7 linked regions of the Homo sapiens genome follow. The protein of the gene in region 5 purifies or fractionates together with the protein of the main gene of each other region. This does not show direct contact. Each region holds a gene or a part of one and is shown on either strand. Other genes may lie near its edges.

Region 1 (4,185 bases), on a different chromosome or scaffold from region 5:
AGGTCATTCTAGAAGACAAAACAGCAAAAAAAGGCACTTGTTCTAGAAACAGTGAACACTGTCATACAGCTAGTACACAAAGTTTGGGGTGAAGAAAAAACAGTAATAAAAGAGAGAGCTAGAAAAAAAGAAAATAAGATATAGATTTTAATGCTAAAAATTAATGAGGCAACGTCAAAGATTTTTAAGCAAAGGTGTAACTATTTATCTACCTATATAGTGTCAGTAAGAGAAGCATGTACCTGAGAAGAGGAAAGAGTCTGGACTGTAAACTTAGAACGTTTCAGCCGCTAATAAATGCCACCATTTTTCTTGATTCAAGTAACTATGAAGTAACTGACATATATTAAGAGTTAACTTCACAATCTTTTCACTTAAAACTCTAAATGACATTCTCTTCCCTACTTACCAAAAAGAATAAATACTAAGCTCTAGCAGAAATATCACTTAAGAAAACCAGACAGGTAGACTGGGTGTGGTGGCTCACGCCTGTAATCCCAGCACTTTGGGAGGCTGAGGCAGGCGGATCACGAGGTCAGGAAATCGAGACCATCCTGGCTAACACGGTGAAACCCTGTCTCTACTAAAAATACAAAAAAAAAAAAAAAAAAAAAAAATTAGCCGGGTGTGGTGGTAGGCGCCTGTAGTCCCAGCTACTCAGGAGGCTGAGACAGGAGAATGGCGTGAACCCGGGAGGCGGAGCTTACAATGAGCCGAGATCGCGCCACTGTATTCCAGCCTGGGCAACAGAGCAAGACTCCGTCTCAAAAAAAAAAAAAAAAGAAAGAAAATCAGACAGAAGCCTAAAAGGGCAAAGAGTGAATTTAACCTAAGGAGTAATGTCAAAGAACTAAGTGGGAAAAAAAATGCTTTAAGTATATACACTGTCGATATTTTTAACAATTTGAAATCACAGATAAAATATTTTATCAATTTCCCACTATTATGAAAAATAATATAGAGGGAAATGAACATGTGCTTTAAAGATATAATCTGGCTTCCTATACATGTTCACATTATGTGTCTTAAATACAACTTGTCAAGTAAAAGACTTTCTCACAAACACCAGCACCCCTTAATGATCTTTATACTTCTGTCAACAAAAAACTTAAGTATCTGTTAAAACAAACATACAAACAAATAAAAAGTAAAAGAATGTATGACCTGCCATTCTCCCAAAAGCTGAGGCTAGGATCTTTGTGGTCATGTTTAGATGTGTGGAGGAAAAAAGAAGAAACAATCTTGGTTGTCAAATTCAGCAGGCTCTTCACAATGTCTTCCTTACAATGTCCTTGGAACATGCCGTATCATCCCTGCTTCTTCCTCCCACCCAAAACTCCTTTCCCTGACTGACCCTAACTACAATCTATCCCTTAACCCCATATTTTTTTTTAAGATGGGTCTCACTATGTCACCCAGGCTAGAGCAATCATAGTGCACTATAGCCTTGAACTCCTGGCCTAAGTGATCCTCCTGTTTCATCCTCCCAAATAGGTGGGGCTACAGACCTGATGCACCCCTGGCAAATACAAGTTTTTGAACTTTTTGTTTTTTAGAGACAAATTATTGCTATGATGCAAAGGCTGCAGTGCAGTGGATTTTCACAGGTGCAATTTTGGCATACTACAGCCTCAAACTCCTGGCCTCAAGCAATCTTCCAGACTCAGCCTCCCAAGTAGCTGATATTACAGGCATTTGCCACTGTTCCTGGCCATTCTTCCTCTTTTTAAAAGTCCTAAGGTCTAGTTTAAATTGGATTTCATCCATGAAACTGTTTCATCCATTAAACTTTCCCTAAAGTCTTCAGTTCACACAGGACCTTGCGCTTTGCCGAAGTCCTAATGTGCAAGTTAATTTAATACTCTTATCTTTTTTCATTTTCTGGCATTTAATCATTTTCATTCCTACTGTTAACCTGGTCTATGCCCTCACAAAATCACATCATATCTAAAGTGTTATAAAGCCTTTAGAATAGCACAGTGGTTATGAGCTTGAGTTTAAATCTCAATTCTACCATTTAATAGCTAGGTGAACTTGACCAAGATCTCTCTGTGCCTCAATTTCCTCACAGGTCAATGCAGAAAAAACAAGCACCTCAAAGAGTTACTTGAAGATTAAATAAGTTAACAAGTAAAGCATTTAGAATAGGGCCCAGTATATAGTTAGTACAAAAGTGTTATTTAAGCTGTTACCCATTTTTCCTTGCTCCAGGCAACTCTACATACTGCTATTGTATCACTATTGTATCACTCTTTCTTTCTTTTCTTTTCTTTTTTTTTTTGAGATGCAGTCTCCCTCTGTTGCCCATGTTGGAGTGCAAAGATGGGATCTCTGCTCACTGCAACCTCCGCTTCCTGGGTTCAAGTGATTATCCTGCCTCAGCCTCACAAGTAGCTGGGATTTCAGGTTCATGCCACCACACTTGGTTAATTTTTGTATTTTTCGTAGAGGTGGGGTTTCACCATGTTGGCCAGGCTGGTCTCAAACTCCTGACCTCAGGTGATCCACCCATCTCGGCCTCCCAAAGTGCTGGGATTACAGGTGTGAGCCACCGCACCCGGCCCACTCTTTCTTAAACAGGGGTTTGGTATGTCAGTGCTCTGCTCAGAACTCTCGTAGGCCTTCCATAACCCAAGGGTCCACATCCTAAGCTTGGTAAGCAAGGCACTTCACAACCTGGCACCACACTATCTAGTCAGCTTCATTTATTCAACAACTACTTTATACAAGATAGTAGGAAAACGTTCCTGTCTTCCAGAGTGTGAAAATTAATTACAAAGACAAGGCACAAACAAGAACATCACACAGAATAGATGTGCACCCTTGGCTACTCTTCAAAGAACTCTCTAATCCAACAAAGTCAGTTTCCTCAGCATTTGGAAAATGCAAAGCTCATTCAAAATTATCTGCTTTTTATTCCATCCTCATCCCCACAAAAAAAATAAAAATAACCAAAAAAACACCTTTTCTTATCTATCCACCCCTAATTTTAAAGTCAAATGTCATTATTCTTTTGCCATTGAAACTTACATAATATCACCTATCTCAACTATTTTCAAAGTGCACTGTCACCCTCTCTATCCAATGTAAAAGTTCCTAGAAAGAAGAAATAACAAATCCTCATCAGTTTGTCATTTTCTCCCCCTTTACCACTATGCCCTTCACTAAAACAAATCATGATAGAACAGGTGCTCAAAAAGATGCACTAGGCCGGGCGCGGTGGCTCACACCTGTAATCCTAACTCTTTAGGAGGCCGGGGCGGGTGGATTGCCTAAGCTCAGGAGTTCGAGACCAGCTTGTGCAACATGGTGAAACCCCGTTTCTACTAAAATAAAAAACAGTAGCTGGGCGTGGTAGTGTGTGCCTATAATCCCAGCTACTCAGGAAGCTGAGACAAGAGAATTGCTTGAACCCAGGAGGCAGAGGTTGCAGTGAGCCGAGATCACACCATTGCACTCCAGCCTGAGTGACAGAGCGAGACTCCATCTCAAAAAAAAAAAAAAAGATGCACTAAGTTTAAATTAAACGTGAGACTAGAAGTAGACAACTACTACCACTAGTAAGTAAACTTCAGTGAAACTGGAAATAGACTACTATGTCAACCACTAGCATGTCACCGGTACCCCAAAGCCTCAAATCAAATAGGGCCATCCAAATCACAAGAGTTCACTCACTATCCTTTCTATGTAACCACTATATGGGTAGATCTGCTTGCTCAGTGGTGCCTTGAATCAACAGAGGAATTAATAACCATTCTAGGCTGGGCACCGTGGCTCACACTTGTAATCCTAGCACTTTGGGAGGCCGAGGCAGGCAGATCACCTGAGGTCAGGAGTTCATGACCAGCGTGGCCAAATGGTGAAACCCTGTCTCTACTAAAAATACAAAAAATTAGCCAGGCATCTGGGCATGGTGGCTCATGCCTGTAATCCCAGCTACTTGGGAAGCTGAGGCAGAAGAATCACTTGAACCCAGGAGGGAGAGGTTGCAGTGAGCCGAGATTGCGCCACTGCACTCCAGCCTGGGAGACAGGGCAAGACTCCGGCTCAAAAAAAAAAAAAAAAAAAAAAACCATTCTACTATCTGCCATCTAATTTGAAGAGCTTGACTTCCGAAAAGGATGAAGGATAATACACAGGGCCAGCATCCAACAAGGCAATATCCAACTGCTACATTACTGAGAA
Region 2 (4,185 bases), about 12 Mb from region 5:
GAAAAACTCTCATCTCAAACCATTTACCCTGCACTAAATGGGAGTTAGGAGAAATGAGTCATCAAGACAGATGTAGAGATATTAACCCAGAACCAGTTTTCTGGACTCCACCCATCTACTTTCCTAAGTTTATAAATCCTTTGCATGCATTTAGTGCCTTTCCTAGGGGTGTGCCACATAGAACCTTCTGGAAATGGCTTTCTAGAAGTTATAAATCTGGATCCTCAACTGGGGAAAAGGATGAACCATCTTCCACAGCTTCAAGTGGACTTCATTCACTTCATGTCACAGCTGCTTGATTTCCCCACAGTTCATTTCTGTAGAAGAGAGCCTTCTGGTCTGTTTTTCCAGATGGCGAGCTTGGGGTGAGTTAGAAGTGCCTGATTGGACTTCACAACTCAGCGTTTTTATTGGCTATTTTTGTTCTAGGTACAATGGAGGTTGATGGATTGTTACTTTTGGTTACCAAAACCAGGAGGAGGGGAGGGTGCTGCTTAGGAGAAACACCCAAAAAGAACAGACCAGCCTTTCTCAGGGACTCAGGGGTGGTGGCACTGCTTCCAACTTACTGCTTCATTTAGAACACCAGATAATAAGCACCCAGGACTCGGCCTTTAGAAGTCAATGGAATAAATAAGCTGGAAAAGGTTGAAGAGAAAAAAGCCAAGGAACATGTAAGTAGAAGATTATATGGAGCCATTTAAGAGCACAAAAAGCAAGAGTAACAAGGCAGCAGATGGAATTTGGCCCCGCCTGGCCCTGCCAAGCTCACTCTGGGAAGCACTGTGTCGAAAGTGCTCTCTTTCTGTCCCCTGAAGCATTCAAGTTCCCTAGCCAAATTCTCAGGCTGTTTCTATGGAGCTTACAAAAAAAGAGCATAGCAGGGTTGATGTGCCCTTTCCTTGTCATTCTGCATCCTCTTCTCAGCTTCATGCAATAAATCTCTGGCTTAAATGAAATTGTTCAAAGGAAAATGGAAAATGGAAAAAAAAATGGTGGAGGGGCAGGAGATACTGACTAGTTCTGGTTTTTCACAAAACAAGAAGAATTTGTCTAAGAGTAAACGGTGTTTATTTTTTGTTGATTTTTTTCAATCAAATGGAATTGCTTAATTAAAAAAAACTTATCTCTTTTCTCCTTAAATACTACAGACAACCTCATTTTATCGCAGCAGACACCTAGGAACAAAACACTGGACCCACCAGAGAAAACTGGGCAATAAAAGCATCAGAAGTTCAAGTCAACTATGGAAGAATTACTGTTAGCTGGCAGCTTTCAATTCTAAACAGAAGTGTCCCAAACCTATTGGGTTTGACAAAAGTTTCTTAGAACTGGGGAGCTGGGAATGTTGGACTCCTTTTAATTCTATTCCAATCATTTCCTGTATAGGGAAATTAAAGTCAATGCATCAAATGAAGACCCAAAGAAACATTTAAAAACTTGTTTGACTAGTATTCAGTATGTGAGATTATTAAGTAATAACTTGTCCACCTAGTTAACCTTGTCCTGGAATATATATAGGTTATTTGTAGCCGCCACTGCTATAATATTTTCTGAAGGATGCCAAGCTGTATGCAAGATCTTTTTGCTAAAGTCCAGACTGTCGACACTGATCTCGTCTTTTCTCCGCTTGCCCCCCACACACACTTTTCGGGGTTTGAGGATAGCCCGGGGCTTGCTGTTTTCCCTCGAAGCCTCAAGGGTCACATCACGCTTGGTGTTTCTGTCGAACATCCTGAAGAAGTTGTTGTAGGAGCCTGTCATGATGACACTGCAAGGCAGAGAGCAAAGGCAATGACATATCTTCACTGTCTTTTCTTTTTGGAGCAAATGATACCATGTTATGGCCAGCTTATGACACCATAGGTTTTATTAAAAACAAAAACCAAAAAATGAGAACAGGCTCTGCAGTGTGATTATTGGCTTTTTGTTTTTTTTTTGTGTTTTTTTTTTTTTTTTTTGAATCACTGAAAGCAATAGGATTTTTGGCTGGGTTTGGAAATGAGGGATGGTGAGAACTCTCCTTGTAATTTGCTTTTGCTCAATAGATTCTTTTTGCTTCTTTGGCTCAGAAAAGGTGTCCACTGGTTTTAATGATCCCAGTCCTACCTACCTCCCATCAGGAATGTGAGACTAGAATGAGGTTTGTCGAAGTAGACACACTTTTGAAAACAATAAGCAGTTGTACGTGTTTAAGGTTTGGCCACTGTCAACAGGGTTCCTGGGCCGTCTGGCCTCTAAGGCTTCATGGCATCAGTGCAGTGAGGGGAGAGATGCTAGTGGCATCGTGCACGAACCCGGGGCGCGACCTCTCCCCTGCCGAGAACTAGCTCTGAATTCGGCCTTTTTAGAAAACTTATCTACGAAATGGATGTCATCATGGTCTTATCTAGGAAACAAGTAAGGAAATTCAAATTTTAAAAGAATCTGGGATGGAGAAATAAAAAGATTTTATATGGTTTTTTTCCCACACTTAATGGACAGATGGTTTCCACATTTTTATAAGTTATCCCCTCTTAGGCATAGCTGCAATCGATCAGGAGAGTGGCAAACACCCAATGTCTTCCAGAGGCAAGGTACTGAATGTTTAATGGTGACATTTCAGACACGGTGACAAGCTGAGGTGGGGAGGGAGAGATTCCTTGGGCCAGGGCAAGTACCCCAAGTGCCATCACACGGTGGTTCCCCTGGAGTGGGGGGCTCCTACTCATTTCTGGGTGGAGCTCTGACTGGCTCCTTAAGATGGGAGAGCAGGAACTCTCGTGTATTTCTCAAATGATTTGGGATGTGTAGAGAGGTGAAGGAAAAAGCTGACAAGATTGGGCCACAGCAAGGGGGATGTGTTTTTGGGCACGTTGTCACCTGTACCAGGTAAATTAAGCAAAGGTTAGATTTTGTTACTCTGGCTCATCAAACTGATACTGTGAACTGTGTCTGTGTACTCGAGTGGACTGTTATCACCTTGTCAGGCAGGGCGCTGAGGGCTTTGCCTCCATGATCTCGTTTCAACTTCTATTATCCCCTAAAAGGGTTTTACAGAGAAGTAATTTGCTCAGTGTCACATTGCTAATTGGTGGTAAAGTCCACCCTCAAACCCACATATGGTTGACTCTGGGGCATAAGTATTCAGCCGGTTGGCCTCACTGCTTCCCATACTTTGACGTTTGCTTGCCCACCATGACCCGACTTATTTTTAAACAAGTAAGAGATTATTTTCCAAAAAAAAAAAAAAAAAGACTACCAACCTTATCTGAAAGAGAAATTAAACTTCCCAGTTGTGATGTTATAGAAAGAGTGTTGATCTTAGGATTCAAACTCTAAACTTGTTACTTTTGTCTCTACTACTTACTACTTTATGAGGTTGGGCAGATTACTTTATCTTGCTAAGCCTCAGTTTCCTTAACTGTAAAATGAGAACGATGGAAGCAATCTTGTTAGACTGTGGTTGGGATTAAATAAAATGATGTGTACGAATGTGTTTGGTATATAGTAGGTGCCTAATAAGTGTAATTTTTGAATCAAGGCTAAGATAGAGGAAAAACTTGAGCAATAATAACAGATATGTAAATAATAATATATGAATAAATAAATACCTATAAATAAATAATAAAATGAGAGGGCTGGCTTCTTTTTCCCATGGTGGATTTTGTTCTTATGTCACAGTTGCTTTGCTCTCTGTCCTATACCAACTGGTCAGTGTGACTTGGGTCCTTTGCCACGTGGAGACTCCTTCCAAGCCTGCTAAGGAGGGGATTCATTTTGGATCAGTGGCAAAGAAAGCCAAGAAACAGGTGGAGTGTGAGAGAGAGACAGTTCATATTCACTGAAAGCTTGAATCTCTGAATGTCTTGCCATAACAGAATTTCTATGCTTTCAAACACTATTATTGGTGCCACCTTCATCAAGGAACGAAATCAGCCCCTGGTAGCTTGCACTTAGTTCTCATGGAAATCAGAGAATCATTTGTATTTGTCAAACTAAAAATGAACTATTGGGAGGTATTATGAAGCACTGTTCAAATCAAAGGCCTTAAAATAGTAATAAATCACTTTGAGGGAATGTGATAAATGAGGTTGACTAGAATTCAGTTAATGAACTACCAGGGCCGTTGGCCAGGTCTCCACTAGCAGCTTCAAGGGATAATTTTTGATCTGGAAAGCCTACTTGGCATTAATCTGAACTGTT
Region 3 (4,185 bases), on a different chromosome or scaffold from region 5:
GCAAATATTCAAAAAAAACTTTTTAAAATCAGAAATTCTAAACACTTCTGGTCCCACGTATTTCAAGTAAGGGACACTCAACCTGTACTCCCCACTCCCCGCCTCCACCCCACACACACAACAGAGCAAGTACAGCAAAAGTTTGAGAATCGCTGAACTGGGTACACATGATTTTCTGTATGTTTGAAATGTCTCGTAATCAAAAGTTGGAACGAGGGCCAGGCGTAGGGGCTCACGCCTGTAATCTCAACACTTTGGGAGGCCGAGGCGGGCGGATCACCTGAGGTCGGGAGTTCAAGACCAGTCTGGCCAACGTGTCAAAACCCTGTCTCTACTAAAAATACAAAAATTAACTGGGCGTGGTGGCGGGCGCCTGTAATCCCAGCTACTCAGGAGGCTGAGACAGGAGAATGGCTTGAACCCGGGAGGCAGGGGTTGCAGTGAGCGGAGATAGCGCCATTGCACTCCAGCCTGGACAACAAGAGCGAAACTCTGTCTCCAAAAAAAAAGGAAAGAAAAGATAAAATAATTAGAAGGCAATAAATGCTATGGGGAAAATTAGAAGGTGCTGATATGCCGGAATGATGGGGAAACTCGTTTAGCTGACAAAGAAAGCTTCTTAGAGGTGGTGACATTTGAGTGGGACAGCAAATGCCGAGGAGAGGGAGAGAGTCAGGGAAGGAGGTGGCCTGGGCCCCTCCTGGAGTACCACAGGGACGGACCACAGGCCAAGTTAGGAGTGGAGGGGAGGCTGAGGGGGGTAAAAGCCAATGAGAAGCAGGGTCGTGGGACAGGGGAGTGAGCAGGCCCAGGATTGGCTAGACTGAGGGCAAGAGGCGGGGCTCTGAGGAAGCGAAGGCTGGAATTGGCCGCCGGACACTCACAGTGCGGGAGGAGGCGGGGGCTGAGGGCGAGGTGAGCGAGACCATCTCCTGGATGGCGAGGCGTAGCTTGAGTCGGTGCAGCGGGTTGCTGATGCCGATCTCGCGCTGGATCTCCGTGTCTGACAGGTTGGCCATGATGGCACCGCTCTTGACATTGGCCCGGCAGGCGGCCACATACCAGGCAGGCATGCCCACCCACAGCTGCAGCGGAGGGACAGAGGGACAGAGGGGACAGAGGGACAGAGGAGGAGAAAATCGGAGAGATGGGGGAACAGGGAGGTGGGGAAAGGCAAGGGGGTGGGGAGCGAAACAGAGACGTGGGAAAGTTCGCAAGGAGAAGAAACAGGACAAGGAAAAGAGACGTGGACGAGATGAGGGAGAGTCCGAGGGAGACAAATAGGGAGAGAAACGGGGGGCGGGGGGCGGGTGGGGGAAGAGGGAGAGGGAGAGAGAAAGAGAGAGAGAGAGAAAGAAATAGAGAGAGAGAAATAGAGGGTGGGGAGAGACAGGAAGCCGGAGACAGGGAGACATCGGCAGGGCGATCGGAGACATGAGGAGAAATATGGGGAATGACAAAAGCGTGGTCAGAGATGGGAATGGTGCCGAAAAATAGAGACAGAGAATCCAGAAAGAGAGAGTAGAGAGAACGACAGGAGACCATGACCCAGGTGGGCAAGGCCAGAGTGGCAGGGGCAGAAGGAGAAGGAGAAAGAAACTGTTTAGGTGAACAGGAAGCCCGAGCCCTCCTGGGTCCTCACCTGCCAGGCCCATGGCCACCCCCACCTCTGGGCTAGAAGCAGGGTGCGCCAGGAGGACCAGGCAGCCCCTACCAGTGGGGCTGTCAGAGGGGTTGGGGACCAACAGTCAGGGCATTTCTGGGCCCCAGTACCTCCAGCCAGGACACCACGGTGGGCCCGTCCCAGGCAGCAAAAGGTAGGCCCTGGCGGCAGGCCTCCTCCAGGAGTTCATGCCTGTAAGGGTGAAGGGGCCAGGATAGAAGCTGTCAGGGATGGAGACCCCCTGCTCTGTGGATGGCCCCCATCAGCACACATACACACACACACACATGCACATACGCACACGCAGCTTTTATGAATGTACAAAACACGGCAGAAGGTCAAAAAATACATGTGAATCTGTAAATCCTCTCCCCCCAACCCCTATCAAAAGAGAGAACAAAATAAGAAAAACAAAAGAAACAAAAAATATAATATAAATGTAAAAAATACAAAAAAAATTTTTAAAAAAAGAAAGAAAAAATAAAAACTCTAGGAGCTCCTGGGTTTCCAGGCAAGCAAGTTCAGGATCACGGACACCTCCTCCCAGCATTGAATTCCCATTTCTGTTCACCACCACCACCGCTGCACACACACACTCACACACCCTCTCACACACACACACACTCATACACACACATACACGCACACACACACCCTCACACACTCTCACATTCACATACACACACACACGCTCACACTCACACACACTCACTTCCTCTTGTTCCTTCGGTCCTTGTCTCCTGGGCCTGTCAGCTTGGCTAGCCCCAGAGGGTCAGTGGCCAGTGTCTCATCTGAGGGTGTTCCAGCTGGAGGCAGGGAGGGGTCGAAATTTGGAAAATCTCAAGGGGGAGGCAGAATCTTTCATGCTGGAGGTGATGAGGAAAATGCCGGAAAGGCAGAGGCCCTGAGGGAGTAGTGAGTGAGGGCACATCGAGGAAGTGATAAAGGCAGACAAGCGCCCATGAATTGGAGTCATCCCCAAAATACGGCTGGATGCACTGGGATGCCCTTGGTAAGGTGGCAGTTGTATGCTGGTAAATGCCTAACAACCGGCTCCTTGGGGAGGCAGAAGGGAATCCCTGATTTGTAGCATTTGCCCATTTCCATGGTGTAAATAATCCCACCATGGCCAATTTCAAGCTACCAGTGTGATGTCAGCCAATTCCTGAAATAGCGGATCTCCTGAGCCAGTGCCAGCGGGCTCCAGCACACCACAGGAAGGTGCCCTGCTTTGAGGATGCCCCACCCTCTTCCTCTGTTTAAAAAATAGGTGGCTGGGCACGGTGGCTCACACCTGTAATCCCAGCACTTTGGGAGGCTGAGGCAGGCAGATCACAAGGTCAGGAGATCAAGACCATCCTGGCTAACACGGTGAAACCCCATCTCTACTGAAAATACAAAAAGTTAGCCGGGCGTGGTGGTGGGCGCCTGTAGTCCCAGCTACTGGGGAGGCTGAGGCAGGAGAATGGCATGAACCTGGGAGGCGGAGCTTGCAGTGAGCCGAGATAGCACCACTGCACTCCAGCCTGGGCGACAGAGCAAGACTCCGTCTCCAAACAAAAAAAAAAAAAAAAAAAAAAAAAAAAGGTAAATGAGTCTGTAATCCCAGCACTTTGGGAGGCCGAGGTGGGTGGATCATCTGAGGTCAGGAGTTCAAGACCAGCCTGGCCAACATGAGGAAACCCTATCTCTACTAAAAATACAAAAAAATTAGCCAGGCATAGTGGCGGGCGCCTATAGTCCCAGCTGCTCAAGAGGCCGAGGCAGGAGAATCGCTTGAACCCAGGAGGTAGAGGTTCCAGTGAGCCAAGATCGTTGCCACTGCACTCCAGCCTGGGTGACAGAGTGAAACTCCATCTCAAAACAACAACAACAAAAACCAAAAAACAACAAAAAAATAAGTAAAGGAAATAAATTCCTTTACCTACCCAGTCACCCAAGCAGGTCCCAGAGTGCCCTTTCCTTTTCCCTCCTCCTCCCGCCTACCTTGGCAAGCTGTGTTCCTTCCAAATTCTAAATAAATCACCAAATGAATGAAGACATGAATGGATGTCAAATGAACATACAAAGAAGAAAGAAAGGGAGGGAGGAAGGGAGGAAGGAACAAAGGAGGGAAGGGTTAGAGTGAGGTACTCACCCAGAGAAGAGCTGTCCCGGCCTGGGGGTCCCATTCGTCCCTTCTCTTTCTTGCCAAAGAGACGGCCTATGGATGACTTGATGCTCTTCTTCTTGGGGGCTTTGTGCAGAGAATCTGGGGTGCCCTCACTGGGAAAGCAGGAGAGAATGAGAGCATATGCTTGCTGAGATGCCCCCTCTCCTCCCAAGTCCTTGTCCACCCCCTTCTCATCTTCCCAAGCCAGCTTCTCCCTGTCCCTATCCCTTGTCCCTGCTGACCTTCCCCGTGGGGGTCCCCCATCTTCCAGGGACCCCGCCTGCAGTGCCAAGGCCTGGGTCATTCTCTCAAGACGGGCAGAGCGGGGAGTGGGTGGTGGGGTGTCTCCTGGGATGGCCGGCCCCTCCCC
Region 4 (4,077 bases), on a different chromosome or scaffold from region 5:
CAGGTGCTGAGGTGCCCGGGGTGCGTCTGCTTGCAGTGTGGGTCTCAGCCATGCGTGTCTGTCCAGCCCGTGCAGTCAGTGAGTCGGGGCTCTGCTCCCACCTACAATGCTGACTGCTCTGAACCCGTGAGAAAGGGCTCAGACCATGTGATCCCACATGGGCCGTGTCGACGGCGCCTTTATGTGCTCAAGGTGGCAGGAGGAGGGGGCACACCCCAAAAGGGGCCTTGAGAACAAGGGTCCCCCAGGCCTTGCCAGGCTTGCCCCAGATGCAGGTTTGTTGTGGCCCTCATCGTGTAGGCGGTCTTGGGGCAGCCTTCACCTGTCCCTGGGGCAGCCCCCACGTGTTGGCTCTTCTCTGATGGGCCTGGCTCCAGGAGGCTCCGAGGATGTGGCACTGGGAGGACGTCTAAGAGCGCACGTGGCTGGGGGCCTGGTGTGCAAAGAGGATGGTCACATGGCTCAGGTGGCCATGAGGCCTTCCTGCCCTGGTGTTGGCTCTGGAAGCCTCTGGTGCACCCAGCCAGGAGGAGGCCCAAGGGCTGAACCCCAGTGGGCCAGGGGCAGCTTCTGGAGTCACTTGAAGGACAGGTGGCGGCGGGGTAGCCGAGTGGGGGGTGCGAGAGCAACCAGGCCCCGCCCGTCATCCCGGCACGGCTGTGGAAGCACAGCACCTGTCAGAGGAGGGCCCGGCTCAGCCTGGGCAGGAGACGGTGCCAGCCCTGCCCCCTCTGAAGGGCCTGCTGGCCACCCCCGCCCCAGTCCTCCGACAAACTTCGCTGCGGGGTCAGGCTTATCCAGAAATCGTGCACAGTTCTGTTTGTCCAATCCCTGCCCTTCAGATGTTTTTAAGGTTTGGGGGCCGTAGGTCTTCCTGAGATAGGAGCCCTGCAGCCTGCCCTGCCATCCTAGAGGTGGGAGCTGCAGTGCACCTGGCAGCCAGGCCCTGGCCAGTCGAGGGTGGGGCTGTGAGGCAGCAGGGAGACCTTCGTGCTCCCAGTGAGCGGAGCCGACTCCACTGCTAGCGGACTAGATCCCAGATTGAGATGCTGTGCGGGGGCTGCGGGCCCCAGGTGTTTGAATGGGGTGCTGCTCACCCCTGCAGGCCTGCCCCGCCTTACACTGGCAGCCTGAGGCCAGCAGGAGGGACCCTGTGGGACCTCAGTCCAAAACCAGGTACCACCGCTGCATCTCTTTCCCCAGGACAAGATCGCAGAGGAAGGTGGGCGGCGGGAGTGCCCAGCCGTGTGACAGCATCGTTGTGGCGTACTACTTCTGCGGGGAACCCATCCCCTACCGCACCCTGGTGAGGGGCCGCGCTGTCACCCTGGGCCAGTTCAAGGAGCTGCTGACCAAAAAGGGCAGCTACAGGTGAGTGTGAGGGCTGGGGTGCCCCCTCCCCGCACGAGTATGTGGGTGCCCAACGGTATGAAAAAGAGGGTTTCCAGCCGGGCACAGTGGCTCACGTCCTAATCCTGGCACTTTGGGAGGCTGAGGTGGGCGGATTGCCTCAGCTCAGCAGTTCGAGACCAGCCTGGGCAACATGGTGAAACCCCGTCTCTACTAAAAATACTAAAGAAATTAGCCAGGTGTGCTACTTGGGAGGCTGAGGCAGAATTGCTTGAACTCGGGAGGCAGAGGTTGCAGTGAGCTGAGATCACGCCACTGCTCTCCAGCCTGGGTGACAGAGCGAGACTCTGTCTCTACCCCCGCCCAAAAAAAAAAAAAGAAGAAAAAGGGCTTCCGGCCATTTCAGCTCATGTCCCTCATCTGCAACTAAAGCCACTTCTCCAAGCCCTAGGCTGAGGGTGGCATCAGGCTTTCGGCCCCACAGGACTGAGAGGGTCCAAAGGGACCCCCGTCCAGGGCCCTCATCTTCGGGGTGGGAAAACAGAGGCCAGACCCCTAGACGACGATGGTCTGAACCTTGTGTTAGGCTCCCCTAGGCCGACCTTGTCTCCAGGCTCTGGACTCATGTGCTTTTGCCTGACTGAAAAGCCAAGCCCCCTCCTACCAAGGTTCATTCGCCCTGGGCCACTCAGCCCTGCAGGGCCCTGCGTGCAGCCAGCCTTGGAGGCTCCCGAGTGAGCACTGGGCGGTGAGCAGAGGGGGCCTGACCCCAAGAGCCTGGCAGAGCCTGGCGGGTGGTTCCCACCGTCCACAAGCCACTGTGCAAACACCCCATGACTGCAGATGTGGTGCTGAGGGAGGGCCCCAGTTGGGGTCACCTCCATGACGGGGCTCAGCCCTTGGGAAGCAGACACCCCACACCCGTCCACTTCCCCCCTGCAACTCCTGAGAGGCTGGGGCAGGTACTCCCAGGGGGATGTGGGGTGCTCCCAGCAGGCAGTGAACTCACCCCCCATGGCTGCCCACTTCACCCACATGTGGTCATTGCACTGTTCACTGTTGCCCTGGGAGGGGGCGCACATGCAGTGGGGGCCGTGGGGCATGGACAGGAGGCTCCTCGGGATGGGGTGTGGACACGCCGTCCCCTGCCACAGGCCTCCTTCCCATCTGCGGTGCTGCCTGCTCACTGCCCTCCTCACCTCCGTCCTGCAGATACTACTTCAAGAAAGTGAGCGACGAGTTTGACTGTGGGGTGGTGTTTGAGGAGGTTCGAGAGGACGAGGCCGTCCTGCCCGTCTTTGAGGAGAAGATCATCGGCAAAGTGGAGAAGGTGGACTGATAGGCTGGTGGGCTGGCCGCTGTGCCAGGCGAGGCCCTTGGCGGGCACGGGTGTCACGGCCAGGCAGATGACCTCGTACTCAGGAGCCCGATGGGGAACAGTGTTGGGTGTACCACCCATCCCTGTGGTCTACCCGTGTCTAGAGGCAGGTAGGGGGTCCCTCCAAGTGGTCCACAAGCTTCTGTCCTGCCCCCAAGGAGGCAGCCTGGACCACTCCTCATAGCAATACTTGGAGGGCCCAGCCCAAGTGAGGCAGCCGAGGTCCCTGCTGCCAGCTTCAGGTGACCCCCCCCCATCCCCCGGCACCTCCCTTGGGCACGTGTGCTGGGATCTACTTTCCCTCTGGGATTTGCCCACGTACCCAGGTCTGGGTGGGGCCCAGGCCCGGATGCAGAGGCCTGCAGGGCCTCTGTCAATTGTACGCGCCACCGAGTGCCTTCAACACAGCTTGTCTCTTGCCTGCCACTGTGTGAATCGGCGACGGAGCACTGCACCTGCCTCCAGCCGCCGGCTGTGCAGTCCTGGGTCCTCCTTTCTGAGGGCCCGTGTAAATATGTACATTTCTCAGGCTAGGCCAGCAGGGGCTGCCCGAGTCTGTTTTTCATGCGATGACACTTGTACAATTAATTATCTTTTCAAAGGTACTTGGATAATAATGAAATAAAACTGTTTTTGAACCTGCCCTGGCTGTGGTGTGTCTTCTGCGGGTGGGGCCTGGCCTAGGTCTCCCAGCCTCAGCCCCCGTGGTAAAGGAGGGCACACTGGCCTCCAGCAGGCATGGGGATCACCTGTGACTCAGAGGCTGGCAGGGCTAGAGCAGGAACGTGCTCCACCTTCCTGCCCTGGAGCCCCCAGCTGGGCAGAGCTGCATCAGGCCAGCCTTGCTGAGGGACCAGGCACACAGAGTCCAGAACCAAGCTCACTCTTTATTCACAATGCACAGCTCCCTCTGGTACCCAAGGGGGTGGCTCCTGTCCAGCAGTGATGGCGGGGGTGACACGGGGGCAGCTACAGTTCCTCCTTGGACCCCATAGTGGAGTTGGCCGGTGGCTCCTAGAAAGGGTCACAAGTGCAGCTCGAAGCTCTGCTCCCAGCCTACCCCTGCCCCCGCCCCTGCCAGCCCTGTGTAAAGAGGATTTGTGCAGAGGCCTGGAGCCCTGGCTTAGGGACACCCACCGGGAACGGGGCTGCTGGCTCCTCCGGGGGCTCCTCCGTGGGCAGCACGCCCCCGTTGTCCAGGAACTTGGAGAAAGTCTCCAGGTCCCTGGTGCTTTTGTATTCAATCACCTGAGAAGAGGCAGGGGGATCTGGAGGACACGTGGGGCCCAGCCCCATGCCCAGCAAGATGGCACCCCGGCTTCCTCCCCAGCCACCTGTCCGCCATACCT
Region 5 (3,656 bases):
AAAATTCAAGAAACTTTCTATAGAAAAAAATGCAGTTACAATTTTGTTGAAAAAACAGCACACATCCTCATATCATAGTGAACCAAAACCACAGCTCTACAGAATTTTTAAATGCCCATGGGGTGTTTGCCCACCTCATCTCAACTAAAATCAAACTCCCTCTACCACCAACTTTATACCAAACATAAATCAATGGGCTATTAAAACCCCATAAATTACTTTACGGTTCAGTAATTTTTCACAAATTTATAGTTATGCAACAATCACCACAATCCAGTTTTAGAACCTTTCCATTATCCCAAAAAGATCCCTCCTGCAGTCACTCTCCACTCCCACTCCAGCTCCTGGCAACCACTGATTTACTGTCTTGAGTTTGTCTTTTCTAGAAATGTCATATAAATGGAATACAAAATGTAGTCTTTTGGCTAAATATCACTTAGAATATTTTTGAGGCTCACCCATGTTCTGGCATAGATCAGTGGTTTGTTCCTTTTCATAGTTGCACAGTCCTTCACTGTATGGCTATACCATTTTTTGTTTCTCTATTCACAGTTAAGATGAACTGGCAATTATGTTACTGAGGTTTTTGGCTACTATGAATAATGTTGCTATAATCATATACATGGAAGTTTTTCTGTGGACATATGCTTTCATTTCTTTTAGGAAGATTCCTAAGAATATAATTGTTGGATCACCTGGTAACGTTTAACTTTTTGAGAAACAGTCAAACTGTTTTTCAAAGTAGCTAGACCATGTTATATTCCCACCAGCAATGCATGAAGAGTTTAATCTCCGGTATTAACCAACACTTGGTATTATCAACCTTACTGATTACAGCCATTCTAATAGATGTGAAGTAGTAACTCAGTTACTTTAATTTGCATTTCCCTGATTACAATTGATATCAAGCATCTTTTCATGTGCTCACTGACCACTCATGTATCATCTTCTTGGGTAAAATATCTATTCAAATATTTTGCCCATTTTACAATTATCTGTCTTGTTATTGAGCTGTAAAAGTTTTTTTTTTTTAAATATCTGAATACAAGTACTTTTTTTCTGGTGTCATCTTTTGAAAAAACATAATCTTAATTTTGATAAAGTCCGATTTTTCAATTTTTTATGGACTGTGCTTTTGTTATATCTAAGAATCTTTAACTAACCTGACAAAGATTTTCTGATTTATTCTAGAAGTTTTGTAGCTTTAGCTCTTACATTTAGTTCTATGATACATTCTGATCCATTTGCTTCAGCACCATTTACTGAAAGAAACATCCTTTCCCCCGGTATTCTTTTGCTAAGGCTGCCACAACAAAGCATCAGAGAATAGGTGGCTTAAACAACAGAAATTTACTTCCTCACTGTTCCAGAGGCAGAAGTCCAAGATCAAGGTGTCAGCACAGTTGGTTTCTTCTGATGGCCTCTCTCCTTGATTTATGGATGCTCATCTTCTCCATCTGTCTTATCTTCTCCCCATCTGTGTCCTAATCTCTAATAAGGATACCACTTACACTGGATTAGGGTCCAACCATGTGACCCCACTTTACCTTAATTACCTGTCCAAATACAGTCACATTCTGAGGTGCTGTGGGTTAGGACTTAGACAAATGAATTTTGGGGGCTACAATTCAGCCCATTAACCTCCATGAGTAAGTTTTTTTCCCCCCAGATAGGATCTCACTCTGTCGCCCAGGCTCAAATGCAGTGGAGTAGCTCACCGCAGCCTGAAATTCCTAGGCTCAAGCAATCCTCCCACCTCAGCCTCCAGAGTGGCTAGGACTACAGCACATGTCACCATGTCTGGCTAAAATTGTTTTCTGAAGAGATGGGGTCTCACTAGGTTGCCCAGGCTGCTTGCATACTCTTAAAGGTAGCACATTCATTCCTCTGAGCACTGGGATTCATCCTGGGTTTTTAGCACAGGTTAGCTCTTTTCATAGTATTTGGAGTCACCGCAGAAACCTTCCACCATCTAGTCCAACTCCTTCATTTTACAGATGCAGAAAATAACGATCTCCAAAAATATTTCGTAGGACTTTACACAATTCAGATATTAATCAAGAAAATTCAGCTCACGCTAAAACCACATCTCACTGCTTCTCTAATATTAGGAAAGTCTGTGACAGCCATTTATCATTTTGAATATTCTTTAATAATAAAAATCAGTCTGTTGCCTAGGGGGGAAAAAATCTCCCCAAGATTTTTGGGTAAAGGTAAAGTCAAACAATTTATTTAAAGGGAAAGGCGGAAGCCTGCCACCCTAACAGCTCTTTACCATCTTTTGCTTCATGTTCAGATCATCATCAGTACACTTTGCAAAGCTACAATTGGCATGTAATGCATGTAATTTTGGAACTTGCTTTTTTCGGTTATCATTTCTACCATTCTAGATTTTTGTTTTTTAAAGACACAGGGGTCTTGCTCTGTCACACGGCTGGAGTGCAGTGGTGCATCATGGCTCACTGTAGCCTTGACCTCCCAGGTTCAAGTGATCCTCCCACCTCAGCTTCCTGAGTAGCTGAGACTACAAGCATGCACCACTGCACCTGGCTATTTTTTTTAACTTTTTGTAGAGATGGGGTTTATGTTGACTACGCTGTTCTTAAACTCCTGGACTCAAGTGATCCTTCCCGCCTTCCCCAGCCTCCCAAAGTGTTGAGATAACAGGCGTGAACCACTGCACCCAGCCTAGTCTAGATTATTACTGTCATGGTTAATGGCTGGAAACTATTCAACTGAGCTAAACCATATGTACATACATAATGTATGTAATGTACATAATATTCTCTGTTAAATATTTACAGCAAATGTTTTCTTGAATTTCTCAGAAAAATTCTTTTTTTTCTTGAACTTCTTCCTCGATATTTTTTTTTTTTTTTGAGACAGGGTCTCATTGTTCCCCAAGTTAGAGTGTAGGGTGGCAAGATCAAGTCTCATTGCAGCCACGACCTCCTGGGCTCAGGCAACTCTGCCCACCTCAGCCTGAGTAGCTGGGACTACAGGCCTGTGCCACCACACTCGGTTAATTATTATTATTTTTTTGTAGACAAGGTCTCACTATGTTGCCCAGGCTGGTCACAAACTCTTGGACTCAAGCAATATGCTCACTTTGTCCTGTCCTCCCAAAGTGCTGGGATTATAGCCACGAGCCACCGTGACCAGCTGATTTAAAACATTTTGACATTTGGTATGTTTATATATTTATAATACTTCAAAAGTATCTAAAAACACAAATCTAATTATATTACCTCTCCATACCCCAATTTACTGAACTAAAATATCTATTTGACCAGCCCTCTAACATTTTTCTTTTCCTTTTTTTTTTTTTGAGACAGTCTCGCTCTGTTGTCCAGGCTGGCGTGTAGTGGCGCAATCTCAGCTCACTGCAACCTCCGCCTCCCAGGTTCAAGCAATTCTCCTGCCTCAGGCTCCAGAGTAGCTGGGATTACAGGCACCCGCCACCACCCCCGGCTAGTTTTTTGTACTTTTAGTAGAGATGGGGCTTCACCATGTTCTCCAGGCTGGTCTCGAACTCCTGACCTCAGGTGATCTGCCTACCTCAGCGTCCCAAAGTGCTGGGATTACAGGCATAAGCCATCACGCCCAGCCTATTTTTTCAAACAATCTGACTGAGGCATTCATTCTCCTCCTTTTGT
Region 6 (4,185 bases), on a different chromosome or scaffold from region 5:
GTTTCTAGAGTGGGTGCAGCCACAGCGCCCAGCGTCTTTCTCAGAAACTGACACTCTGTCCATTTAGGAGGGAGCCACATTGAGTCTTAAAAGCCACCCAGGTTTCTGAGCTAAGACCCAGACCTGTTGCCTTCTGTTTTTATTTTTCAAGCTCATTCCTGCCTTTGGATAGTAAGGTAGTTTTTAAAAATTTTGTGGAGACCGGGTCTTATTATGTGGCCCAGGCTGGTCTCAAACTCCTGGGCTCAAGCGATCCTCCTGCCTCAACCTCCCAAAGTGCTGGGATGACAGGCATGAGCCCCTGTGCCTGGCCCAGACCCGCCTCCTGTGCATTGGGTCCCTCGGTTAAGCAGGGGTCCCTGTAGCCCTGGCTGTAGGACCCTTGGATTTCCGTGTCTCCTTTGAAGCGGGCTCGGGAGATGCTCCCATCGCCACCAGCGCATTAGGCCTCCCGGTGGGCTCTATGGAGTGTGAAACACGAGGGAGGCACAGCCGCTCTCAGCTCCGCGTTCAGTCTTCGCGGCCTGGCATTTTGAGACAGGAGTGCGTCCTTTCAGATCCTTTCAGATCTTGGGTGGTGGCCTTTGGTTTCCGTTCAGCCCGTGGCGCACGGGTGGGCTGAGATGGCACACGCGCTTCTATGGCTTTGCCGCCTGGTGTCCCGCACCCCCAGCTTCCGTTAATTAATCCTCCTCATTTCACGAGGACCGACTCCCCACCTGCCGGTTCTCAGAGAGGGGAATCAGATGTGATCCCTGCTCGCCAAGGGCTGGCAGCCAGTAGAGCAAGGAGCCCGCCACCCCGCACCCCACACTGTCTGAGACCCACTGCAGCGCCCTCGGGCGCCATACCTGTTGGTGCTGCGGGAAGGGGCCTGTGACAGGGACAGCACTGTCGGGCAGCCTCCCACGCGGCCTCTCTCTGCCCCAGTTCCTGGCCATGGTGTTCCAGGACCTGCTGACCAACAAGGACGACTACCTGCGGGCCTCGCGGGCCCTGCTGCGGGAGATCATCAAGCAGACCAAGCACGAGATCAACTTCCAGGCCTTCTGCCTGGGGCTCATGCAGGAGCGCAAGGAGCCGCAGTACCTGGAGATGGAGTTCAAGGTGCCAGCCCTCGCCGCTGGGGCGCCTTTCCCTCACTGCGGGTTCCACGCGCCGCCATCCCCCTCGTCCTGGGTCCCATGCACACTCCACCCCTTCGGATGCTCTGGCTGAGCGTGGGTACGGGGATGAGTGAGGCTGTTTGCGGTGACGCGTCCCAGAGGGTAGCATAGGCTCTGTCCTGTGTGAGGACCTATGAGGGGCTGACCAAGCACAGGGGAACTGGCAACCCCTAGGCTGGATGGGATGAATTGCTGCCGGCAGCAAGGGGAGCACGGGAGCAGGGAGGCAGGGTGGGGCTGCGGGCTGCCTGGCTGGGTTGGAGACTTTTCGAGGGCTGTGGAGGGAGCTGGCGCTGGAAGGCACAGTGAGGGTGGATCACAGAGATGCCAGGTCCCTGCAGCCAACTCGCAGCCAGCCTGCCGGGGTGGCCTGTTTTGCGGACGGGGCTTTGTGGATCTCTGTTGACTGAACCTCCCTCCTGTGGCCAGACTAGGACCTTGTGGGCCACCGGCCCTGGTGCCCCTCCTGTCAGGCCCCTCTCCCAACTGGTCCTGGGCTCTCTCTCTGGATCCCTGCTTGTGTGTGTGTATGTGTGCGCATGTGCAAGTGTGTGCGTGCTGCACCCACGTGTTTGTGGAGTGGGGCTCCCGGGTGTCCCTTCTGGATACAGACCCCGTGCCGCGCCCACGTGGGTGTGGAGTGGGGCTCCCGGGTGTCCCTTCTGGATACAGACCCCGTGCCGCGCCCACGTGGGTGTGGAGTGGGGCTCCCGGGTGTCCCTTCTGGATACAGACCCCGTGCCGCGCCCACGTGGGTGTGGAGTGGGGCTCCCGGGTGTCCCTTCTGGATACAGACCCCGTGCTGCACCTGCAGGAGCGCTTCGTGGTGCACATCACCGACGTCCTGGCCGTGTCCATGATGCTGGGCATCACAGCGCAGGTGAAGGAGGCCGGCATCGCCTGGGACAAAGGAGAAAAGAGGAGTAAGGATGTGGGGGTGGCCTGGCCCTGCTTGGTGGGGGTCTCGGGTCCAGGCTGGTGGCTGGCGGCTCTCCGAGGCTGCACTGTCCCCTGAGCGCCCGGCAGGAGCGGTCCCGCAGCACGGCTACTCGGGGACACGGAGCCTGGAAGCTGCCGTCCCCGTTCCTGTCCATCCGGGCCTCACCCCAGCTGCAGGCTCAGACCCTGTTCCCATGAGCGTCCTTTGTGTGCTCCAGTTCTGGCCCAGCATGGGGGCATTGCAGGCGTGGTGGCCCCAGCCACGGGCGGGAGTGGGGAGGGGAGGTGGTGTTTGGGGCAGTCCGGGTGTTTGATTATGGGTTCACAGGAAGGCTGGGCCGCAGAAGCCCTCTAAGCCATTGACCGGAGCGAGTCACTCGGAACAGGAGGATTCCAGTCACCCACGCACGCGTCAGGGTCACTCCATGCCTCCCAGGGTGTTATTCCAGCTGGGAATCGTCCAGAAGCTGGGGGTGCCCTGAGTTACCCCCTCCCAAGTGCCAGCATTGAGTTGGACCCCCAGGGGTGCCTTAGCCCCTCATGGCCCATGGCTCGGATGGGCCACTAAGCTGCGTGTCTGTTTCAGACCTGGAAGTGCTCCGCTCATTCCAGAACCAGATTGCCGCCATCCAGCGGGATGCCGTCTGGTGGCTCCACACTGTGGTCCCCTCCATCAGCAAGCTCGCCCCTAAGGACTACGTGCACTGGTGCGGCTGGGGCCCTGTACAGCCCCTGTCCCACACCCCACTGAGCCGGGACAAGCCGGGGCCCCGCACAACCCCTGCCCCAAACCCCACTGAGCCAGGACAAGCCAGGCCCCGCACAGCCCCTGCCCCACACCCCACTAAGCCGGGACAAGCCAGGCCCCCACACGGGAGTCTGTCCCCTCTCTGCGGACAGCAGCAGCCGTTAGGCTCCAGGCAGGTCACCCTGTGCATTGGAGCCTCCCGTGGAGCCTCTGCCTTGGTTGGGGTGGGGCTGCCAGGCTGGGGCTGCATTTCTCTGCAGCGATTTTGTAAAGGGCTGTCCAGCCCGGCAGCCCCGTTCGGCCGCTGTGCAGCCTGGCAGCCCCGTGAGTGGTCCCTGGGTTCTTTGGTGGTGCTGTGAGGAGGTGCTGAGCTTGGGCACCAGGCAGCCCGGCCTCTGAGCGCTGGGGCCCGTGGGAGCGGGGTCCCTTCCCTGGAACTAACGGGGCTGGTCCCTGAGCACCCACATCATGACTGAGGGCTCTTCTCTGCCTGCCCAGCCTGCACAAGGTGCTGTTCACAGAGCAGCCGGAGACCTACTACAAGTGGGACAACTGGCCACCCGAGAGTGACCGCAAGTGAGTGCGCTGCCGCCTGGGGCTCCTGTGTGCCGGGCTGGGCGGGGCTGCGGGGTGCCGGGCCGGCTGCGGCAGGAAGGGCCAGTGGGAGTTGGGCGGCTGTTCCCATGGTCACAGCACCATCCTGCTCCTCCTCCACAATCCTGGGTGCCACCCTTCTCCCACTCCCATGCTGGCGTCCCAGCGCCACTGTAGGGATTCAGCTGCCGTCTGCGTCCACGTGACTCCAAGCCCCAGCCGCAGCCTCCCCCGGACCCCCGCCTTCCAGTTGCTTCCAGGGCGTCCACGGGCACGCCACCCTTCACGCAGTCTCAGATGCACCGTCTGCCCCTGCTTCTGTCCAGACAGCCGCACACTGTCCTTCCCCAGCCGGCTGGCCTCACAGCTCTGTCCCCCTTCAAGCCCCATGGGTGACCCCGTGGGTTCTTGGTCTACACTCCCCTCCAGCCCCGCCTGGGGCTCCTGCCAGTTCACCCTGCCCCCACCTCGTGCCCTGGGCGCTCTGTTCACCTTCACTGCGGCCTTCCGGTCAGGCTTTGGAGGTGTAGGGGTTATCTCTGTCTCCTGGCCCCCAGCTCCTTGAGGGCAAGAACCATCTAGAGGCCTCTGTGGGGTGGCAGAGTCTCCGTGTGGTGGTTGTAGGAACCAGTGACTGTGTGTGTATCCCCAAAGGCCTTGGGGTGGGGGTAGCCTCCCCTTCTCCCCTTGTCCAGGCGAGACTTAGAGCCAGGGCTCCTGTCCTGCAAAGGGAGGCTC
Region 7 (4,185 bases), on a different chromosome or scaffold from region 5:
TAAGCAGCACCTCACTCTGGGCACCTGTGCAGCCTGCTTCACTTGTGCAGCACTGTGCGGTTGTCTGTGCTGGCTCATTTATCTCAGCGGCTTCGTGGTGGTCCCTGCATGGCCCTGTGGCTTACTGTTGCCCTTCGCCTCTGGTTGGCATATGTGTGGCGTCTGGTTCACTACCACTGTGTTGGAGCTGCCACATCGCTGTGTCACGCTCCTCAGGCCCGTGCTGGCTCTCCTCTAGAGCAGACTCAGCAGACACTTTCTCTCCAGGGCCAGATTGCAAACATTTTTGCCTCTATAGCTCATGCGGCCTTTTCACAACCACTCACCTCTACCCAGATGGTGCAGAAGCAGCCAGAGACAGTATGTGCACACATGGGCCTGACTGTGTTCCACTAACACTTGCCTTAAATACGGCAGGCTGCATTCAGCAGACCTGCTCCAGAAAACACGGCAGGCTGCATTCGGCAGACCTGCTCCAGAAAACACGGCAGGCTGCATTCGGCAGACCTGCTCCAGAAAACACGGCAGGCTGCATTCGGCAGACCTGCTCCAGAAAACACGGCAGGCTGCATTCGGCAGACCTGCTCCAGAAAACACGGCAGGCTGCATTCGGCAGACCTGCTCCAGAAAACACGGCAGGCTGCATTCGGCAGACCTGCTCCAGAAAACACGGCAGGCTGCATTCGGCAGACCTGCTCCAGAAAACACGGCAGGCTGCATTCGGCAGACCTGCTCCAGAAAACACGGCAGGCTGCATTCGGCAGACCTGCTCCAGAAAACACGGCAGGCTGCATTCGGCAGACCTGCTCCAGAAAACACGGCAGGCTGCATTCGGCAGACCTGCTCCAGAAAACACGGCAGGCTGCATTCGGCAGACCTGCTCCAGAAAATACGGCAGGCTGTATTTGGCAGACCTGCTCCAGAGAACACGGCAGGCTGCGTTTGGCAGACCTGCTTCAGAAAATACGGCAGGCTGCATTCAGCAGACCTGCTCCAGAAAACACAGCAGGCTACATTCGACAGGCTGAATTCGGCAGACCTGCTCCAGAAAATACGGCAGGCTGCATTCGGCAGGCCTGCTTCAGAAAATACGGCAGGCTGCATTTGACAGACCTGCTCCAGAAAATACAGCAAGGCTGCATTCGGCAGACCTGCTCCAGATGCATACCTAGAAGTGGAGTCGAAGAGTCGGAAATCAAGTTCGTTCTTTTTTTTTTTTTTTTCCCTGAGTTTCATCTGAGATTTTTTTGAGCCAGGATTTTTTAGCTTTAAAAAATATGTATGGTCATTTGATATTCAAATTTATAGTACTGAAATTTTCTCTACACTGTGCTTTGTTCATTAAAACAGCTCTCATGTTTCCTTGCAGAATAAAAGCCGCCCTCATTCTAGGGGAGAATATAATGTTTACAGCACCTTTCAAAGTCATGAACCGGAGTTTGACTATTTGAAAAGTCTAGAAATTGAGGAAAAAATTAATAAAATTAGGTGGTTACCACAACAGAATGCTGCTCATTTTCTACTGTCTACAAATGGTAAGAATTGTGTTCTAAGTGGCTGTTTGATTTAGTTTTTTATTTTTAATTTTCTGTGTGTGTGTAGATTCCTTTTTATTTTAGAAGTTATTCCTGCTTTAAATTTTGGGGGGAGGGTAAGTTATCTAGGGTAGCAAGTGATAGGTTGAAAATTCAAAGTATGCAACAAAAACCACACGTGCACTTTATTATGCTGTTACTCTGCACGTCTGCACATCTTTCTTTATTGTACAAAACACCTCCAATTGGAAATATTCATGTTCAGAGACCCCATAGCTTATAACCCAATATAGGACCACACCGCTTTCTAATACCAGTACTCAAACAGTAGTGATGCATGTTATAGTTTTTCTTTTCATATGGAGAATGAGGTTTTTATTTTCAGATAAAACTATAAAATTATGGAAAATAAGTGAACGGGATAAAAGAGCAGAAGGTTATAACCTGAAAGACGAAGATGGAAGACTTCGAGACCCATTTAGGATCACGGCGCTACGGGTACACGTTGCCTTTGCTTTATCCAATGCTGTTGAGAAGTTAAGAATAAACGTTTCAGTCTGCTGTCTGGAGAGTGCTGCGCGGTGGAGTACTGTGAGGTCTGCTGTGAGGTCTGCCTCGTGATTCCTGAAAGTCGTTTGCACTCATGTGTGTGTTTAAAAGCAAGGTCTTTCTCCTGTTTTCACAAAGGCAGAAAGTCACATGTGGTCCTTAGGAAACACAGCAATACTAAGGGGAAAACTCATATTTAATTCTACAGCAGAAATCTTTGTGGACATAGCAACCACCCTTCTCTCAGAAGGTTCAGAACAGCACCTGGGAGGTTGGAGTTCAGATGAAATTCAGAACACCTCACAGGTGCAGTAGCACAGGTTGCAGGTCGAAAGATGAGCTGTGGGCCACAGGTACATTCAGGACGCTTCTCGGGGAATTTCTTTGGGGTTGGTTTAGGCAGATGCTGATGGTTCAGAACTCTCCACCTGTCCATCCATGAGCATCATTACTTTTTTAATTGTTAAATTATTTGCTCCATTGTTGGTAGTATGAAATGATCATATTTCATCAATTCTGATGCCTAAATTTTTTCATATTTTAACATTTATGAAACCGGCTAAAACTCAAAACCTCAATGTCTTATAATTGGCCTGGTGCTACGCACCACTGATGTTGTCTTAAATTAGATGGAACATGGTGAAGGGTGTCCGGCAAACTGGGCTCGAGCCCAGGTGTGTCTTGGTGAGAAACCAGCACCTGTGCAGAGGTGTGTCCCCTGGAAGGAAACTCTGCCTGGTCCCAAGGGGGTGCCGTTACTAGATTGGAAAACCGTTGGTTGTTTGGGTGGTTGGGTGGTTTGGTTGCGGGGGGTGGGTGGTTGAGTTGGGTGGTTTGGTTGGTTTTTAATGAGATTTCAGCCCCTTTTACACTATTGTTTATCAAGTGAAGACTGAGTGAGTGAGCCCATTCCACATTAGTCTTGGAGAGTGCTACAGAGGACGCTGTACCGCAGAAGCCTTTCCCTAACACATGTGCCTCTGGGAGTGATGTTGGGTCTGTTCTGATGCCATTTCTCCAGCTTTGCCGTGTGGGGTGGCTACACCTGGGGTTGTGCATTCCTCAGGAGGAGTGTCCTCAGACTTCTCACATCGATGTTGTCACCGTATTTCCTATGAGTTCATCAAAGCGAGAAAGGCTGTGGCATTTGCTGAAAATCTAGTTTATAGGGTCCTAATTTGAACCAAGATGTTTTGATCCAAAATGTTGGTGATGTCTGATACACAGTGCTGCCGCCTTTGCACCCCTGAATTAGTGTAAATCACTTTTAGTGACAGTAACACGAGTTGTGCAGTTCCATCATCATGAAACTGCTGATCCTAAAGTAGAAGTGTGATGGGACCCCCGAGGGTGGGCACTTGACCCCCTCCAGCCTTGTCCATCTCTTCTGCAGCCAACACCACCTCCCACCCAGTTACCTGTGCACACCCCACCCTCAGAAACCCCTGTTCCTCCTGATCAGACCCTGCCACAACCCATCAGCTCACGTGCTCATTTTGGGAGAACAGTAGGCCTTTACTAGGCCCAGTCTTGGTTTTATTCAAGGCTGCTTTTGTAGGTTTAGCCTAAATAAAACGGGTATAATTGGTGGCCCTACTGAAGGTGTGTGAGAAGTCTAGTTATTTCATTAGTTGGTGCATGGGGAAGAGACCACAGACAGGTAATTCTGTACATTGACTTAGGTCGGTATTTGAGATCTTACCTCTCTAACAGTTCAGAGTGGGCTATTTATGTATCTGAGCCTAACTGGGTAAGAGTCAGACATGTTGCTGTTTTTAAATTTTTGCTCTTAAATTATTTTAGTGCCAGAAAAGGGATATAATTAAAAGAAGAAATCTTGGCCAGGTATGGTGGCTCATACCTGTAATCCCAGCACTTTGGGAGACCGAGATGGGAGGATCACTTGAGCCCAGGAGTTCAAAGACCAGCCTGGGCAACATAGCCAGACCCCATCTCTAAAAATGAAAGCAAATTATTTTATATGCAAATTAAAATGTTTTCAATAAAAGAAGGAATCTTTGTAAGTATTGCAGCTATCATATGTTTTGATTAATGGGAAATTTGTTAGAGGATTGGGGTAGGTGTGTGTTTTTAAGCCTGA

Evidence for each region.
Region 1: the proteins of PPP2CA (region 5) and SLMAP purify together in Homo sapiens (affinity purification with mass spectrometry; 5 studies listed by BioGRID and IntAct, with this or other methods). This does not show direct contact.
Region 2: the proteins of PPP2CA (region 5) and PPP2R2B purify together in Homo sapiens (affinity purification with mass spectrometry; 4 studies listed by BioGRID and IntAct, with this or other methods). This does not show direct contact.
Region 3: the proteins of PPP2CA (region 5) and PPFIA3 purify together in Homo sapiens (affinity purification with mass spectrometry; 4 studies listed by BioGRID and IntAct, with this or other methods). This does not show direct contact.
Region 4: the proteins of PPP2CA (region 5) and AXIN1 purify together in Homo sapiens (affinity purification with western blotting; 4 studies listed by BioGRID and IntAct, with this or other methods). This does not show direct contact.
Region 6: the proteins of PPP2CA (region 5) and INTS1 purify together in Homo sapiens (affinity purification with mass spectrometry; 5 studies listed by BioGRID and IntAct, with this or other methods). This does not show direct contact.
Region 7: the proteins of PPP2CA (region 5) and PPP2R2D purify together in Homo sapiens (affinity purification with mass spectrometry; 9 studies listed by BioGRID and IntAct, with this or other methods). This does not show direct contact.

Annotation. Positions count from the first base shown.
Region 1 is NC_000003.12:57,762,598-57,766,782, reverse strand, and holds part of SLMAP (sarcolemmal membrane-associated protein), read right to left. Parts: intron 1-4,185. UniProt on the Homo sapiens protein: Associates with the striatin-interacting phosphatase and kinase (STRIPAK) core complex, forming the extended (SIKE1:SLMAP)STRIPAK complex.
Region 2 is NC_000005.10:146,588,456-146,592,640, forward strand, and holds part of PPP2R2B (serine/threonine-protein phosphatase 2A 55 kDa regulatory subunit B beta isoform), read right to left. Parts: intron 1,772-4,185; coding exon 1,492-1,771; 3' UTR 1-1,491. UniProt on the Homo sapiens protein: The B regulatory subunit might modulate substrate selectivity and catalytic activity, and might also direct the localization of the catalytic enzyme to a particular subcellular compartment.
Region 3 is NC_000019.10:49,139,704-49,143,888, reverse strand, and holds part of PPFIA3 (liprin-alpha-3), read right to left. Parts: coding exon 4,058-4,185; intron 3,929-4,057; coding exon 3,801-3,928; intron 2,470-3,800; coding exon 2,376-2,469; intron 1,856-2,375; coding exon 1,774-1,855; intron 1,086-1,773; coding exon 885-1,085; intron 1-884. UniProt on the Homo sapiens protein: May regulate the disassembly of focal adhesions. May localize receptor-like tyrosine phosphatases type 2A at specific sites on the plasma membrane, possibly regulating their interaction with the extracellular environment and their association with substrates.
Region 4 is NC_000016.10:286,734-290,810, reverse strand, and holds the end of AXIN1 (axin-1), read left to right. Parts: intron 1-1,203; coding exon 1,204-1,371; intron 1,372-2,562; coding exon 2,563-2,689; 3' UTR 2,690-3,371; downstream 3,372-4,077. Other genes in the region: PDIA2 (protein disulfide-isomerase A2 precursor), read right to left, coding at 3,698-3,742, 3,866-3,976, 4,076-4,077. UniProt on the Homo sapiens protein: Component of the beta-catenin destruction complex required for regulating CTNNB1 levels through phosphorylation and ubiquitination, and modulating Wnt-signaling.
Region 5 is NC_000005.10:134,202,074-134,205,729, forward strand, and holds part of PPP2CA (serine/threonine-protein phosphatase 2A catalytic subunit alpha isoform), read right to left. Parts: intron 1-3,656. UniProt on the Homo sapiens protein: Catalytic subunit of protein phosphatase 2A (PP2A), a serine/threonine phosphatase involved in the regulation of a wide variety of enzymes, signal transduction pathways, and cellular events.
Region 6 is NC_000007.14:1,494,060-1,498,244, reverse strand, and holds part of INTS1 (integrator complex subunit 1), read left to right. Parts: intron 1-930; coding exon 931-1,107; intron 1,108-1,980; coding exon 1,981-2,089; intron 2,090-2,691; coding exon 2,692-2,812; intron 2,813-3,351; coding exon 3,352-3,429; intron 3,430-4,185. UniProt on the Homo sapiens protein: Component of the integrator complex, a multiprotein complex that terminates RNA polymerase II (Pol II) transcription in the promoter-proximal region of genes.
Region 7 is NC_000010.11:131,938,662-131,942,846, forward strand, and holds part of PPP2R2D (serine/threonine-protein phosphatase 2A 55 kDa regulatory subunit B delta isoform), read left to right. Parts: intron 1-1,369; coding exon 1,370-1,535; intron 1,536-1,920; coding exon 1,921-2,033; intron 2,034-2,106; exon of another isoform or gene 2,107-2,131; intron 2,132-4,185. UniProt on the Homo sapiens protein: Substrate-recognition subunit of protein phosphatase 2A (PP2A) that plays a key role in cell cycle by controlling mitosis entry and exit. Involved in chromosome clustering during late mitosis by mediating dephosphorylation of MKI67.